Regions from separate parts of the Homo sapiens genome. Here region 1 is linked to region 2. Evidence: fine-mapped expression QTL. Tissue or cell type: tibial artery. Region 2 holds a variant in brackets; the other region holds the start of a gene. All regions are shown on one strand. Distances are between the middles of the regions.

Region 1 (2,903 bases), 25 kb before region 2:
TGGAGCCATCTTTCTTATATTTAGGAGCGTTTCATGATTTGTTTTTGTTCATTGCTTCCTTTGCCTTTTTTTTTTTTTTTCCCTGAGACAGGGGTCTCACTTTGTCTCCCTGGCTGGAGTGCAGTGGCAGTAATCTTGGCTCACTGGACCCTCGACTTCCCAGGCTCAAGGGATCCTCCCACCTCAGCCTCCTGAGTAGCTGGGACTACAGGCGCCCACCACCACACCAGGCTAATTTTTGTGTTTCACTAGAGACAGGATTTCACCATGTTGCCCACGCTGGTCTCGAACTCTTTGCCTCAAGAGATCCACCCACCTCGGCCTCCCAAAGTGCTGGGATTACAGACGTGTGCCACTGGACCCAGCCTCCTTTGCCAGTCTTAATACTAAGTTATTTTATTATTTTGGGAGAATTGCTACATCGAATATCAGCCCTTTGTCATATGTTTCGAGTATTTTTCTGAATTTGTACCTTGTCTTTGATTTTTTTTCTTTTTTGAGACAGGGTCTTGCTCTGTCCTCCAGGCTGGAGTGCAGTGGCGGGATCACAGCTCACTGCAGCCTCGACCTCCCGGCCTCAAGTGATCCTCCCACCTCAGCCTGAGTAGCTGGCATCACGCCCAGCTAATTTTATTTTTTGTAGAGATGGGGGTCGCACCATGCTGGCCAGGCTGGTCTCTAACTCCCGAGCTCAAGCCATCCTCCCGCCTCGGTCTTCCAAAGTGCTGAGATTGCAGGCGTGAGACACCGTGCCCAGCCGTCTTTAATATTTTTCACCAGGCGGATAGTTCACATTTTTGTGTAGTCTTTTTTTTTTTTTTTTTGGTGCCTTCTAATTCTAATTCTTCCCATTTCTGGGTGTGTACTTAGTCTCTCTGAGCCACAGTTTTCTGCTCTATAAAGTGGGGTGATAATGCTCAGTACACGGTTTGCTTTGGCTCGATGAGAAATCCAGGTCTGAAAGCTTCAGGTACAGCGGCCGGCGCTGAGGAAAACAGCGTTAAGTGAGGCGCGTCAGCGGACACCACCTGCCTGCACATCTGGCTGGCCTCAACTTCCCGCTGTTCGAGCCCACGTGAGTGGCTCCGCCCCATCTGGCTTCTGACCAATGGACGAGCTTCCTAAGGCGTACCGTCCCGACTCCAAGGCGCCTGGCTTTGAGGCGGGCTGCGTCTTGCTCGGAGTCCCGCCCCTTGCCGGGTCGAGCAATGGGCGCCTTCCGTTTGGCGCAGGCCCCGCCCCTGTCGCTCTCCGGCCTGCGGGCCGCAGGGCTCGTTCCGGAGGGCGGGCGCCACGGAGGCCGGAGTGGTCGCAGTTCGGGCGGAGGCCGGGCCAGGCGGGGCTGTAGGGCTGGGGCAGGCGGCGGGCTGCCCGGCGGGACAGCTGCGGCAGCCGGCGGGGGGCGTCCTGAGTTGGCGGTCGAGGGCGCTGCCAGCTCCCGAGGGGCCGCTCGGGCCCCTTCCGGCCCGGGTCTGGTTGGGCCGCAGGAGCAGGGCGGGCTGCGGCGCCCGGGTCTGGCCCTGGCCTACGGGCTAAGCGCCCGGCCCCGGGGCCGCGGATCCGGCAGCCATGTGTGGATCTTGAAGCGCCATGTGGTCTTCTGAAGCGCTTGACAGTTCTAAAGGGCTTTATATTGCAAACTGATCAAAGCGCTTCGTAGCCCCGGAAGCGCTTAGGCATCTCCGAAGTAGCGCTGGGCAAAGTGAAGGCTTCCTGATCTCAGAAGCACGTTGTGGGCTTGGAAACCGACGGCAGCCTTTAGTCAATTTTGGATCGCTTTGACTTCTCCAACACGGTTTGGCATCTCTGAAACCTTGAGAACTGTGATGGGCAGTGGAAAGAAGAGGGAAAGGTCAGTGAGGCTAGCCCCTGGCTCTGCCCTTATGTCTTGCCGTCCTCCTGGGCCCGGGGTGGCGGGAATCTGAGGTGGGGTCGCCAGGAAGGGTGGTGTTGGAATCCAGGCCCCCTGTACCTTGCAGGTGCCCATGGCGTCCGAGCGGGGCAAGGTCAAGCACAACTGGAGCAGCACGTCGGAAGGGTGTCCCCGCAAGCGCAGCTGCCTCCGGGAGCCCTGTGATGTGGCCCCCTCCAGCCGGCCAGCTCAGAGGTCTGCGTCGCGTTCTGGAGGGCCCAGCAGCCCCAAGCGCCTGAAAGCCCAGAAGGAGGACGATGTGGCTTGCTCGCGGAGGTTATCCTGGGGCTCATCCCGCCGCAGAAATAACTCCTCCTCCTCCTTCTCCCCACATTTCTTGGGCCCTGGTGTGGGCGGGGCCGCCTCCAAAGGCTGCCTGATTCGGAACACTCGGGGGTTCCTGTCTTCAGGGGGATCCCCTCTGCGTCCTGCCAACGCCTCTTTGGAAGAAATGGCTTCTCTAGAGGAGGAAGCCTGCAGCCTTAAGGTAGGTGGCTGCCACGCTTTGCAATCGGTGAAGCCCCTTCCACATGGCTTGAGAGGTTGGGGATGGGAATTTTGGTGGAAGGAGACTACAAAACATTACATCCTTGAAGGTCTGGAAGGTCTTTCTAGAAGTCCACTCCCCCCAAACTCGAAGACCTAGCAGTCTTCCAGGCGCGTGGCCTGAAGTTAAGTAGAGAGGTAATTTTCAAACTCGGCAGCACTTTGGAACTACTTGGAAAGCTTTAAAATACTTGGGCCTGCCTCCTACTCCAGAGAAACTGATTTATTGGGCTGAGGTGTGGTCTGGGCTTCCAGATTTTTCAGTGCTCCCCAGGTTATTGTAAACGTGCAGCCCCGTTGGAGAATCACTGCAGTAGAAGGTGGATTATGTGCTCAAGAGAAGAATGTATTTATTTTAGTTGTCAGTTTAAAGAATTGTGTGCCCTTGTACTTTGAACCACTCTGAATCACAGAACCAAGAATTGCGGTTCTTGGTGTAGCTTTT
Region 2 (2,903 bases):
GAGTCTTGCTGTGTCACCCAGGCTGGAGGGCAGCGGTACGATCTCAGCTCACTGCTACCTCCACCTCCCCAGTTCAAGTGATTCTCCTGGCTCAGCCTCCTGAGTAGCTGGGATTACAGGTGCCTGCCACCACACCCGGCTAATTTTTTTTTTTTTTTAAGGCAGAGTTTCACTCTTGTTGGCCAGGCTGGAGTGCAATCGCATGATATTGGCTCACTGCAGCCTCCAGTTCCCAGGTTCAAGCGATTCTCTTGCCTCAGCCTCCTGAGTAGCTGGGATTATAGACTCCCGCCACCACGCCCAGCTAATTTTTTGTATTTACAGGATCACACCTGTAATCCCAGTATTTTGGGAGGCCGAGGCAGGCGGATCACCTGAGGCCAGGAGTTGGAGACCAGCCTGGCCAACGTGGCGAAACCCCGTCTCTATTAAAAATACAAAAATTAGCTGGGTATAGCTGGGTGTGGTGACTCATGCCTGTAATCCCAGCACTTTGGGAGGCCAAGGCGAGCGGATCACCTGAGGCCAGGAGTTGGAGACCAGCCTGGCCAACATGGTGAAACCCTATCTCTACCAAAAAAAAAAAAAAAAATTAGCTGGGTGTGATGGTACATGCCTGGGGTCCCAGCTACTCAGGAGGCTGAGGCAGGAGGATTGCTTGAGCCTGGGAGGTTGAGCTGCAGTGACCCATGATTATGCTCCAGCCTGGGTGACAGAGTGAGACCCTGTCTCAAGACAAAATTATCAGGGTCTCAGGTCTGCACTTAAAGGTCCATGGGGCGACCTGCACAACAAACTGAACTAGAAGCGATAGGCATAGGGGGATAAACACAGTCTTGAAGATGTCATTTGGCTTGGTGAGATTTGACTCAAGACTGGAAGATAATGAGTCTGAGGAGTTGCTGGCTGGGAGAGGGCTAAGCTGCCTGTAAAGGGGAGGAAGACTAGAAAATATTTGTCAACACCAGAGACTCCTAGGCTGGGTGGGGGATATGGACACTGTTTTGATGTAAATAAAAAATTTGGCACCCAAATGAGGTGAATGGTGGTGACTGGCAACTGCACCTAGTTGGATGTCAGTGCTGAGTTGCATTTACCTAAAAGAGCAGTTAGCAAGTTCT[G/T]GATGTGTCCTGCTGAATGTTTTATCTTGTGAAGGGAAGAAGAAGAACCTATAGAGGGCTGGGCGAGGTGGCTCACGCCTGTAATCCCAACACTTTGGGAGTCTGAGGCAGGAGATTGCTTGAGCCTAGGAGTTCAAGATGAGCCAAGGCAACATAGTGAGACCCCATCTTTATTACATTAAAAAAAAAAAAGAGCCTGTGGAAGGTCTGTATCTGGGCAAGATGATAGGGTGACAGACCCTGCTCATTATAGGAGAGTTTGGTTGATGTACCTAAAATTTTCTGGAAGGATTGGAAAATAGAGAAAAGCAAAACAATTGGGGAAAGAATGGGTAGTTATAGTTATTCTGCTGGTTAGAGCAAATTACTGTTAACGTTTTCTTTGTTGATCTGTGGTGTTTACAGATTAACTATGTAACTCATAAGAGTTAGATCCTGAATAGTTTGTGTGTAAGTTGCACATGTCAGCATCTGGGAGGGATGCCAGGGAGAGTAGACTGTCCTTCCCTACCCAGGCTGTATCTCTTTACTTGTGTTAAAGAGGAATTAATTAATTATTAAAGTAATAAATATGCAAGAGATGCCTGGGGCAACTCCCAGGAGAGACTAACTCTGGAATCCCTGGAAATAATGGATCAGTTAGGAAGCCAACCTTATGCAGGTAGAAGTGAGTAATTATACTGGGTAATAACTCATCTGTACTTCCTTCACTCCTGTTGTTTTTCAGCTGGGTTCCTGGTGAGGACAAATGCTGCAAATAGCTCCTGTCCAACCACAAGTTCCTGCATTCTAATGAGTTCTTCTTCCTTCTTAACATTTTTGAAATCTGGATGTGTTTCATGAAACATTATAAATGTAATGTTATTGTTCCTTGGAAAATTGCAAGGTACAATACAATTGCAAGGAACAGTTGCACAGTGGCTTGTCTTCCATGCACCTGTCGTAGGTTGGATGTGTGTGCTTGTGTTAAAGAAAGAAATTAGGAAATTAAATAGTTTTAAGTGTCTTTTCTACTCGTGAAATTTTCCCATTCATCAGCTATACTTTGAAAAATGTTTAACAGCTGTGTAATATTCTATCCTAAAGCTCTAATAGTTTATTTCACTACTCTGAGGGATAATTTTTTAGAGGCAGGAATGAAATGTTGGAATTGGAATCTCTTGAAACCTCTGCTGCCTGTGTGTAGGGGTCGGGGAGGGCAGATGAACAGCTTAGCAGATGCAAATAGGAGGGGCTCCAGCCACCTATTGATAGTGGAACTGGCCAGGCTTTAGATAAAGCCTCTGTCAAGCAGTCTATAATTTTGATGTCTGTGGTCATTTTCCTTTCTTTGAAAACACAGATTAAACAAAAGTTACATCAGAATTGGTATTGGCTTAGTGTTGCTATTTTGAGAAGAGGCAGTACAGGTGTTAGACTTGTAAATATTCTCAAGTGAATATCACCTGACTCAAATTACAAAAAGTATCTCATTGTTTGATGCTGAAAACATAAACACAAATTATGTTCCACAGTTGTAGAAACTACTCATGGAAACATTAATATGAGGTAATTTGCTTATAATGAATTAATTTTTTTTTTTTTTTTTTGGAGACAGTCTTGCTCTGTCCAGGCTGGAGTGCAGTGGCATGATCTCAGCTCACTGCAGCCTTTGCCTCCCAGGTTCAGGGGATTCTCCTGCCTCAGCCACCCAAGTAGCTGGGATTATAGGCACCTGCCACCACACCCAGCTAATTTTTGTATTTTTAGTAGAGACAGGGTTTCACCATGTTGGCCAGGCTT

The links.
Region 1: it holds the start of TATDN2, and the variant in region 2 is fine-mapped to the expression of TATDN2 in tibial artery (GTEx, PIP above 0.99). The same link has a PIP of 0.9 or more in aorta and prostate.

Annotation. Positions count from the first base shown.
Region 1 is chr3:10,247,216-10,250,118 of GRCh38, forward strand. It overlaps TATDN2 (TatD DNase domain containing 2), which reads left to right and starts at 1,244. Exons shown (of 8, transcript NM_014760.4): 1 at 1,244-1,852; 2 at 1,980-2,399. The coding sequence starts at 1,986. RefSeq lists a silencer at 1,130-1,559 and an enhancer at 1,812-2,680.
Region 2 is chr3:10,272,298-10,275,200 of GRCh38, forward strand. The region is part of intron 4 of TATDN2 (TatD DNase domain containing 2); the gene reads left to right. Among named protein-coding and RNA genes, the nearest start is that of MIR12127, 6.6 kb to the right of the region's middle. The variant G/T (reference allele first, on the strand shown) is at 1,122.